Linked DNA regions of Homo sapiens. The protein of the gene in region 1 purifies or fractionates together with the protein of each later gene. This does not show direct contact. Each region holds a gene or a part of one and is shown in the gene's direction. Other genes may lie near its edges.

Region 1 (3,652 bases):
AAAAAAAAAAGACGCCACTGAAATCACCAAATGTGTAAGGATTATTAGTTATGTCAAAATGTAAAAGACAAAGGGAGAAGCTGCTATGTGCCTAATATTTTATTTGACAGCAATTTTTTATTCTCAGTAAAATTATAGAAGAACTTTTTTGATTATTCCACAACTCAATCAGATAGAACCAATCTGAATCAGCCTTAACAGTTGTTTATTATTACTTAGAGTAGGTCAGTCCAGATTATACAACTTTTTCTATATCCTTTATGAAATAATGTTTGTCTTTAAAGAACTTACTTTAACAGTGAATTTCATATTTAATATTGTGGCTTTAAAATAGAAAATAGATGCATGTAAATGTTTATGTCCATAAACATGCTTAGGATACCATGCTGATTAGGAAAAATAGAGATGAAACTAAATCACAACTCTTGTTTTTTATTTAAATGTGTGTGTGTGTGTGTGTGTGTGTGTGTAAAAGACTAGAGGGAAGTTTCAAAAACAGTGCTTTGACAGTGTGCCCACTTTTTTCTTTTGATTTCTCAAATTTCTCTACAGTAAGCATATATTACTTTTAGTAATTTTTATTAAAACTCACTTTAAAAACCTGCTCATGTTTTAATCCATTAATTTTCCTTAATCCAGTAGGTTTCCTTATAGCAAACTACCCTGTGGAATTTATTTATTTATTTGTTTATTTATTTATTTTTGAGACAGTGTCTCGCTCTATTGCCCAGGCTGGAGTGCAGTGGTGCGATCTCGGCTCACTGCAACCTCCACATCCCGGGTTCAAGCAATCCTCCTGCCTCAGCCTCCTGAGTAGCTGGCACTACAGGTGCCTGTAACCACGCCCAGCTAATTTTTGTATTTTTAGTAGAGACAGGGTTTCACCACGTTGGTCAGGCTGGTCTCGAACTCCTGACCTCGTGATCCACCCGCCTCGGCCTCCCAAAGTGCTGGGATTACAGGCATGAGCCACCACATCCGGCCGGAAATAATTTAAAATGTGCTATATTATAACATTATTTAAAATTACAGTATTTAAAACTATCTAGATGTCTAACAATAGAAGAATGTGAAGTAAATGATGGTACAGTCATAGGATGGAATATCATATGACTATTAAAATGTTATTTACAGTGGTTTTGATAATATGCCAAGATACTTATTATAAATGCAAAGTGGAAAATCGATTTAAAATTTTATATGTGGGGCCAGGTGTGGTGCCTCACACCTGTAATCCCAACATTTTGGGAGGCCAAGGTGGAAGGATCACCTGAGACCAGCCTGGCCACATAATGAGTCCCTGCCTCTACAAAAAGTAAACAAAATTAGCCAGGTGTGATGGCATGTGCCTATAGTCCCAGCTAGTTGGGAAGCTAAGGTGGGAGGATCATTTGAGCCCAGGAGTTCAAGGCTGCAGTGAGCCATCATCATGCCACTGTTCTCCAGCCTGAGTGACAGAGCAAGACCTTGTCTCCAAAAAAATAAAAAGAAAAGAAATTGTATATGTTATGTAATGTCTACATTTTTTTAAATGCATGGAAAAAAGCCAAAATGTTAACTGCAGCACTCTGCTGAAGCGAGAATGCAAAAGTGATTGTGTGCCTTCTATCCATGTTGTTTACTAGGTGGATTTTAAACGTCTGCAAAGTGTGCAAATGTTAAAATGTGATTTAAGCCTACTTGTGCTCTATGTTTCATATTTGTTTCATTTTGAGATAGGCCTGAACTTTTCCGATTAAGAGTTCTTGAGTTAAATGCATCTGATGAACGTGGAATACAAGTAGTTCGAGAGAAAGTGAAAAATTTTGCTCAATTAACTGTGTCAGGAAGTCGCTCAGAGTAAGTAAATTTGCCCTCCCTCCTCCATAGCATGTATTATTTTAAATATGTATTTCTGCCATCGCTCCTCAGCCTTTTGGCTAAGATCAAGTGTATTTCTGCCAAATTGTCAACTTTTCATGTTAGAAGACTATCCTGCCTGAGGTAAACAGGGATTTAATCAACTACTTATGCTCCTTAGGTGGCAAAGGTCCAGGATTACATTGGTGGTACCTAGACATATGTGTAAATTTTACATGAGCACATTTCAAAATTTGTGAAAGTGAATGACTAATTTTTGATATGCACCTTAAATTGATGGTGCAGTCAGTCACAACCGCTATAGCACCTAATGTATTTTTATGTGAAATGAAGACTGGGAGGTGGACTAAAAGACTCTGAGATCCCTTCTACCATTAATACTTGAAATCTGTTTTCTTGGTATAATTTTCATACAATTATGTTAATGCCACTTTTGGTGGGAGAAAAACTTTAATGGCAGATTACCAAAAATCAATGTACAGAAGGTAATAACCCGCAACGTGGGAGAAAATATTTACAAATCATATACCTAAAAAGGTACTTATATCTAGAACATATGAAGAACTTTAAAAACTCAGTAATAAAAACAAATAACCCAATTAAAAAATGGGCAAAGGCCGGGCGCAGTGGTTCACACCTGTAATCCCAGCACTTTGGGAGGCCGAGGCAGGTGGATCACAAGGTCAGGAGATCGAGACCATCCTGGCGAACATGGTGAAACCCCATCTCTACTAAAAATACAAAAAATTAGCTGGGTGTGGTGGCGGGCGCCTGTAGTCCCAGCTACTCGGGAGGCTGAGGCAGGAGTATGGCGTGAACCCAGGAGGCAGAGCTTGCAGTGAGCCAAGATCGCACCACTGCACTCCAGCCTGGGCGACAGAGCAAGACTCTATCTCAAAAAAAAAAAAAAGGCAAAGGATCTGCATAGACATTTCGTGCATGTGTAATAAGCACATTAAAAGATGCTCATCAACATCATTATCCATTTGGGAAATGAAAATCAAAGCCACATTGAAATACCACGTAACTCCCACTAGGATGGCTATGATAAAAAATACAGAAAATAACTAGCATTGACAAGGATGTGGAGAAATGGTAAACCGCATACATTGCTGGTTGGAATGTAAAATGGTACAGCCTCTTGGAAGACATGTCTGCTCAAAAACATGTACACAAATGTTCACAGCAGCATTATTCTTAATAGCCAAAACATGGAAACAGCCCAAATGTCCAACCGATTAATGGATGAATAAATGTGGTGTATCTATTTGCCATAGTATTTGACAATACAAAGGAATGACGCAAACACATGCTACAATATGGATGAACCTTTAAAATATGTTAAGTGGAAGAAGTCAGCCACAAAAGACTGCATATTATATGTTCCATTCATATCATGTCCAGAATAGGCAAATCTATAGAGATGAAAGTAGACTAATGATTGCCTAGAGCTGGGAATGACTGGGGGAAGAAGAGTGACTCCTAATAGGTACAAAGTTTCTTTTAGGAGTGATAAAAATGTTCTAAAATTAGATTGTGGTAATGGTTGCACAACTTTGTGAACATACAGAAAAACACTGAATTGTACATTTTAAATGGGTGAATTGTATGGTACGTGTATCTTTCAACAAAGCTGTTAAAACCAATATACATATTAATGTTCAACTCTTATGTGTTTCTCTGAATCAGTGGGAAGCCGTGTCCGCCTTTTAAGATTGTGATTCTGGATGAAGCAGATTCTATGACCTCAGCTGCTCAGGCAGCTTTAAGACGTACCATGGAGAAGGAGTCG
Region 2 (3,752 bases), on another chromosome or scaffold:
GAGTAATTTACCTTCCCCAGGCATCAGTTTCCTCATTTGCAAAAACAACAGCAGCAGTAAGACTAAGTTAATCCAAGCAATGCACTTCACACAGGGCCTGCTCAATAGATGTTTGCTGTCATATCACTTCCCAGCTCAAAAACTTTCTGTGGCTCCCCAGTGTCTGAAGGTCTAACCCCATCCTGCCTTTCTAAGTTGGCCTGAGTTCCTACCAGCCCAGGGCAGAGAACACTTGATTTCCTCATATTTTATGTTACACACTGCCCCTGCCTTGTGTTCCCAGTATCTACAGATGGTAGGGAATATCTCGAGATAGCAGGTTTGTGGTAGAGGGCATTGGTCCCAGAAGTTTCACTGATAGAGATACCTTTTAAGATTTTATGGCTAACTTAAGAAATAATTCATGTCTCTTTGCAATATGGTTCAAGTGTCTTGAGTGACTTCGAGTCCCCACCTGGGGATAATGGAGGTGAAGCAGCAAGAAAGCACATTCCCACTCAGTTTCACAACCTGCACCATGTATGTGTTGGTGGTTATTTGGGCAGCAGGGAGTCCTGTTCATGGAAATGGATTCCTGCTCACATAATAACTAAGAGTTCTGTGAACTCCCTCAGCTGGGCAGGGGCAACTCTGGTGCTTCTGTCTGCAAGAAAGGGGACAGACAGGGAGGCTGATGTGAGGAGCTGGTTCTGGGAATAGGGTCATTTGTTCTGGGATATAGGGATGTGAGGGGAGGGCCAGCTCAATCCAGACTGATGAAGAGCGGGGAGAGTGATGAGTGCCTGCCTCAGCTTGGGCTGGATGGATGTGGGGAGGCTGGGCAGTGAGGGAGATGTGGATCTGACATCTCAGCCTGAGGGAAAGTCCCGGTTGAGATGGGGGAAGACAGAAAAAGAGGAATCTGAGAAGGGAGAAACCAAAGGCTGGAAATCCCAGCTCCGGGGATAAGGGAGTATGGGGACGGGGGAGGCCTGCCTCAGGTAACCCTACGCCTAACAGTTGTCTAAAATGCTCCCTTTCCTTGTCATGTTTGAGGAAAAGTGGTTCAAAGAGGCCGTCTGATGCGGGATCACACAGCGCTGAAGGGATGAGGGGCCCCGGGTGCTCCCGCCCGTCCTGCTGCCTCCTCCGGTGGCTCTCTGGGAGCCACAGCCCCGTCTAGCCACGGAGGGGCCTACAGCACGCCCCAAACGCTAAGGGGAAGCGCGGGAGGTGCGGTAGGAAGGCAGAGAAACCTGGTTTTTAAAACCAAGCCATTTTCAAGGAAAGAATTTCTTACTTTAAAACCTTGGTTTTTAAAACCAAGCCATTTTCAAGGAAAGAATTTCTTACTTAAAAATAGCGTATGGAATGGCGGCGGAATGACGGGAGGGACCGAGCTGGGGGACTGGACGGCGCCCCGGGGACACAGGAAGGAGGCGCGCAGAGCCGAGGCCAGAGGCGCGCCCGGGGAGTGGAAGCGCGAAGACAAACGCGGCGCCGCGGAGGGTGGGGGAGGAAGGGCCGGGGCGGGCCGCCGGCTGCCAGCCCAGGGCGGGGCGGAGCCCTACTTCTGGCCGACCGCGTAGGCGGTGCTTGAACTTAGGGCTGCTTGTGGCTGGGCACTCGCGCAGAGGCCGGCCCGACGAGCCATGGTTGCTGGGAGCGACGCGGGGCGGGCCCTGGGGGTCCTCAGCGTGGTCTGCCTGCTGCACTGCTTTGGTGAGTGAAGCCTGCCCCAGGGGCCCCGCGCCGGCCGGCGGGTACTGGGCAGCACCCAGGCTGGGTGGACGCGCCGGGCTCGAGGCGGTTGCCGATCAGAGACGGGTGGGGACGGGTCGCTGTGGGCCGGGAACAACTCAGCCGTGGGAGCCTTTTCAGGAAGAGAAAGTTGTTATTTCATCGCCAGTGTCCCTCATGGAGTCAGCAAGGAACTGTGTGGCCTTAGGGAAGGACGGGCTCCGGCCCGCTAGCCTCTCCTGCGGGGCCTGCGCCCCCCCGCCGGCCCCCTCCCGAGCTCCAGTGACCAAGTTCCTTCCTGGGCTTCCCCAGTAACGTCGCTGAGCGCTTCAGCGGACTGCAAAATTTTTCCCAGCCGTGAACGCGCCCGGGACGGGGAGCGGGCGCGGATGCCACCTGCTCGAGGGCGACGCCTGCTGCCCTCCCCGCGCGGTGCCGTCCCCGCCCGCGCGGCGTCCGCCGTATCAGCAGAGAGGACTTTTCAGAATCGCCCCACAGCGAGGAGCGGGTAGGCAACTAGGAAGCCCAGTCGGCAGCGGCCTCACGTTGGGATTCCTAAGTGGTGCGACTCCTGCTCCTTTTTCCTCCCCTCAAATCCTAAAAACTAGTATCAGAACTGGTTCCATCCTCTCCGTGTGTTGTCAGCCAAGTCGTCACAACAACCTCAGGAAATAGGTCCCCTTCTTCCCATTTTGCCTCCCCATCCTCCTTCACCCTCCACACATTGGCCCCAGTCAGGCCATAGCAAAACCCCGGGAGTACAGCAGTAACCTCCCAGCGAGTTCAACTGTACTTGAGGGGTTCTCATGGCTGGCTCCTGCACCCCACTGCCAGCCCTCCAGCCCGTCCGTCCGTTTGCTCAGCGTCCGCTGCCTGCCCGGGAGGTGCGCGTGTGCATCTATGGAAGACAGCCAAGGGGGAGGGGTTGAGATAGACTCAAAAGTACCCGCACGATCAGATAAGTCAGTGTTGTAAGAGGCCTGGGCTGGGCGTGGTGGCTTACACCTGTCATCCTAGCACTTTGGGAGGCTGAGGCAGGTGGATCACTTGAGGCCAGGAATCGGAGACCAGCAGGGCCAACACGGTGAAAGATCGGCTCTACAAAAAATACAAAAATTAGCTGAGCGTGGTGGCGCATACCTATAGTCCCAGCTACTCGGAAGGCTGAGGTGGGAGAATCACCTGAGTCCCGGAGGCAGAGGATGCAGTGAGCTGTGATTGTGCCACTGAACTCCAGCCTGGGTGACAGAATATGACCTGTCTCAAAAAAAAAAAAAAAAAAAAAAGGTGAGCTGTGAGGGTACAGAGGGAAGAAGAAGGCAGTCTCTTTTGTGAAATCAAGTGTCTTTTGTGAAGCAGTCTTCATGGGAGGGAGGATATTTGAGCCCAGCCTTCAAGGACTGGTGATGTGTGGACATGTGATAATGTGGGAAAAGATTGCTGAGTGTCCCCTTAGGGAGTCTGGATTCTCTGAGCTGAGAGAGCTTCTCCTGGGCCTTACAGGATCAGGACCATGCGCCTGGGAAGAAGAATCTGTTAGCAACAAAGAGGAAGGCTGCAGTCAGGAGGAATTGGAGGCAGGGAGGCCAGAAGGCCAGGGTGGACTACCATCACAGGGCCCAAATAGCTCTGGGGAGTTCATGTGCGGGTGGCTGGGGAAAAGAAGAGATACAAACAGGGATTAATTGAATGGATGGGGTAACTCTCCTCCAGGCAAGCTGGTCCCTCATTCCCTGGCACCTTGGGTCACTGCTGCCTGTACCTGTGTTCTCCCTTCCACTGCAAACCCAGTTTGCCCAAGCTCCACCTCCAACAGATTATTTGAACTGTCCCTTCCTGGTGATCTCTCTCACCTAATTCATGTATTCATTCAGAAGTCATTTGATTCAGCAAACATGTATTTATAAACTGCTCTGCATAGGCCTTAAACTAAAGACAAGACTGAATGGGTATATCCCCTTTTGGGGACCCAAGCCTGCCTCATTAGGGAAGCTGCAAATGCAGTGATTAACAGCATCAGCTCTGGGGTCAGA
Region 3 (3,752 bases), on another chromosome or scaffold:
CGTGGCTTCTCTCAACAATGTTTGCTAAGCTTCTTTAAAGCCTCTTTGGCTCTTAGGGAAGGTGTGTTTCAAAACCTGTAACAGGAGTCCCCGCCTAGAATGGCTCTTCAGTGTTACTCCTTCCTCCCAGCGGAAGCAGCCTTTGTTTTTTGTTGGGTTTTTTTTGTTTTTTTTGTCTGTTTGTTTTGTTTTTTGAGATAGGGTCTCACTCTGTCACCCATACTGGAATGCGGTGGTGTGATCACAGCTCACTGTGGCTTGGTCCTCCCATGCTCAAGAGACTCTCTTTGCCTCAGCCTCCTGAGTAACTGGGACCAAAGACATGCACTACCACACCCAGCTGATTTTTTTATTTTTAGTAGAGATGAGATCTTCTCTTACTGTGTTGCCCAGTTTGTCTCGAACTTCTTGGCTCAAGTGATCCTCCCACCTTGGCCTCCCAAAGTGCAAGTGAAAGCCACTGCAACTGGCCAGAAGCAGCCTTTGATGTTGGGTCTACTGCTGCCCTCAGCATTGAAAGAAGTTTCAACCATCCTTTTCACATTTTTTTTTTTTTTCTGAGACAGTCTCACTCTGTTGCCTAGGCTAGAGTGCAGTGGTGTGATCTTGGCTCACTGTAACCTCCACTTCCCTGGTTCAAGTGATTCTCCTGCCTCCTCCTGCCAGAGTGGATGAATGGTTCTTCTTCTTCTTGACCATCTAATCATTGTCCACTCAGACTTTAAAACTCTGCATCAACATCACCTTCCAGGTTCTTCCTTCTCTCCACTATGCGATGCCTGGCATTGAAAATTTCTGTATATGACTTTATCATGGTGTGTTATAGTTATTTAATATAGCTGGGGTTACAGGTGTGTGCCATCACGCCCAGCTAATTTTTATATTTTTAGTAGAGATCAGGTTTTACCATGTTGGCCAGGCTGATCTTGAACTGCTGACCTCAGGTGATCCGCCTGCTTCCACCGCCCAAAGTCCTGGGATTACAGATGTGAGCCACCACGCCTGGCCCCTTTTCACATTTTTTTATACATGGATAAATAAGATAGAGATTAGAATTCTTACATGCTAGGTGTATTTTCCCTCTGATAGTTTTACAAAATAGTCTAGGTGTAGAATGTGTGGAACAGACTTCTTTTGTGTTTTCTAATCCTAGGGTTCCTGGGTTTCTGAGAATTTGTTTGTCTTGAAGATTCCTTTAAGCCATATACTCCTTGCATGCTTGTCTGTGCCCCTGCCTTCCAGGTACTATGGGTGTATGGGGGTTCCTTCTATCTTGAGTTTTCAATTTTATTTTTTGAAAGAGAATACAAAATAGGTTGGGTCCTATGCCACCTTGTCAGTGATATGGTTGTGCATACTGTTGATATCAGTTAAAAGGGTGATCACAGGAGCATATATATATATATGTTTTTTTTTTTTTTGCATAAGGCCATAAGTTAAACAAAGAATTCAAACAAAGACAGTAGGTATATGAGTGAGAATGCTTTAATTGAACTGGTATTTGTACAAGGTGACACCCTGTTGCATACCACACACCTCCTCCCTGAGTGACTCAGCCGCTGAGCAAGAAACCTCTGAACTGTTCACTAATACAGTCAGGTAGAGGTTGAGACTCCACTGAATAAACTCTAGGTTCCCATTTCTTTCAGCCAGATCCTCCCAGGGAATCACTACAGGCTGGTTAGCCAAAAAGTCCTGATTTTCTGCTCAATAGAGGTAAGTTGAATTATACTTGCAAACAGAAATACATCTGCTGTATGTGCACAGCTTTCTCTGTGTTCCTTACAAATGATTAAAATTAGAACTTACTGTATTATCTTTGTCTTTTCTTCCTGTAAATTTTGACAGCCTCCAGCTGGCTGTTAGCTCTGCTCTTCCTTGCTGTACTTTTAGGTCACATTGCATTGAACTTCTTGGCAATTTTACACGTTATGGGCATCACAGAAACGAGCACCTATTTGATTTTCTGGGTGGGAGCTGTCAGCTGGTGAATCCTGCCACACAAAGGATAATAAATTCTTTAAGTGAAGGGACCAGCACCTGCTGGTTTATTTTCTCAAGCGACTATACAAACATTTTTTAAAGGATCTTTCTGTTTTCATAAATGATGCTTTTAGTGAAATAGTGAACTCAAATATTGCTTTATAGTTAATAAGTCATATTTATTTTTTTCTCTACTGCTAAAAATATTGCAAGTTGCTGAGCTATGAGAGAGAGAGAGGTTTATATTTATGAGGTTTTTGTCTCCACCCTATCTTCCCCAAATAAGAAAATCACCATTTCTCACTTGAAAGTACCAAGGAGTAAAGGCAGGGTGTGGGAGCAGAATAAGGGTACATGGTTCCTCACAGGGATCTGTGGGCATCTGGCCAACTTCTCTATGGTATATTCTGCATTCTAACCTAAGGAGTGATTAATGTATATGGGGGCAATTTTCAAACTTTATTCATAGCCTAGTCCTGAAAAACCAGTTTTGGGAGACTTTTGATAAGGCTAGAAGAGTTCTTTTAACAGAGCTTTCTTTTATAATTAATAGCTAAGCTGACTTGTGTTTTTTCTCATCATTTCTATTTATGATACAGAGCTGTGGGATTCAAATGCAGGGGCCACTCACAGCTTGCAAATTGCAGCTCTGTGTCCTCCAGAGAGGTGCCCCCACAGCATACCTGGCTCTATCTGTAGTACTTGAGTTCTCATGGCTTCCTATTGCTGACAAGGTCACCTGCAGTCTGAGAGGGGGTTAGACACACCAGTGCTCATTTCCCAAAGGTTTACAGAAGAATTTTACAACTTGGCTTTCAAGTGTTTATAGTAACCAGAAAACTAAAGTGTAGCAAGTGTGGATAATTTTATTTTTCATAAAATGTGATTACATTTAAAACTGTCTTTCACTTCCATAGTTTATAACGTAGATAAAGCCTTCCTAATATATGTGGTGCTCCAGTGTTTAAAGTATTGGAAACATCAATTTGAGAAAACTGAGAAATGACAACAGTAAAAATTTTAGTAAAACATTCAGATGATCCTAAATGTCGGGATATGCATAGAATGCCAACAACAGGCCAGAATTTTTATTGGAATGTTAGCGTCGTATAAATCTTAGATCTAATTGACAGAATATTTCAACTGAAACGGAGCATAGGCCCATCTAGTCTAATGCCTGAATTTTCTAGTTGAGAAAATCAAAGCATAAATGTTAAGCAACTTGTGAAGATCAGAGTAGCAGAACCAGAGCACGATGCCAGATTGCTTGTCTTTTGTCTTACTGAATTTTCTCAATATTTTTTCAAATGCTTTTTATCATAAAATATGTAGTAGCAATAAATGAGCCACACTCCATCACAGACTGTGGTTACCCAGCACATGTGGAAATATTATAGTGTGTATGGTATGACTAAGACATAATAGAATACGTTTTCCAACTTGTGGCTTATGGAATCAGTGTTGCCGTTTATTATATTTATGAGATTTTCATCTCAGGAGCCAGTAGCCCCTCAGCAGGGAGGGGATCTGATGTATGTGTGTTAGCTGTGGTCTGTACAATCAGAACACCCTTGCCTCGAATGCCATTCTGTAGGTGATGCTTACCTGACTGCCTTCTCAGACTACCAGAATTATGATGAAATACCTGAGAGGTTCATATTCCTGGGGACTATGTAAACAAAACAAATTTTGAATGACTGAGCTCATACTGTGGAATGAACTGAACACAATTCACGAAGCCGTCAAATTAAGCAAACATTGTTTAACTG

Evidence for each region.
Region 2: the proteins of RFC4 (region 1) and CD58 purify together in Homo sapiens (affinity purification with mass spectrometry; one large-scale study listed by BioGRID and IntAct). This does not show direct contact.
Region 3: the proteins of RFC4 (region 1) and SCEL purify together in Homo sapiens (co-immunoprecipitation; one large-scale study listed by IntAct). This does not show direct contact.

Annotation. Positions count from the first base shown.
Region 1 is NC_000003.12:186,792,845-186,796,496, reverse strand, and holds part of RFC4 (replication factor C subunit 4), read left to right. Parts: intron 1-1,719; coding exon 1,720-1,839; intron 1,840-3,549; coding exon 3,550-3,652. UniProt on the Homo sapiens protein: Subunit of the replication factor C (RFC) complex which acts during elongation of primed DNA templates by DNA polymerases delta and epsilon, and is necessary for ATP-dependent loading of proliferating cell nuclear antigen (PCNA) onto primed DNA.
Region 2 is NC_000001.11:116,568,852-116,572,603, reverse strand, and holds the start of CD58 (lymphocyte function-associated antigen 3), read left to right. Parts: upstream 1-1,577; 5' UTR 1,578-1,631; coding exon 1,632-1,701; intron 1,702-3,752. UniProt on the Homo sapiens protein: Ligand of the T-lymphocyte CD2 glycoprotein.
Region 3 is NC_000013.11:77,534,109-77,537,860, forward strand, and holds the start of SCEL (sciellin), read left to right. Parts: upstream 1-1,597; 5' UTR 1,598-1,716; intron 1,717-3,752. UniProt on the Homo sapiens protein: May function in the assembly or regulation of proteins in the cornified envelope. The LIM domain may be involved in homotypic or heterotypic associations and may function to localize sciellin to the cornified envelope.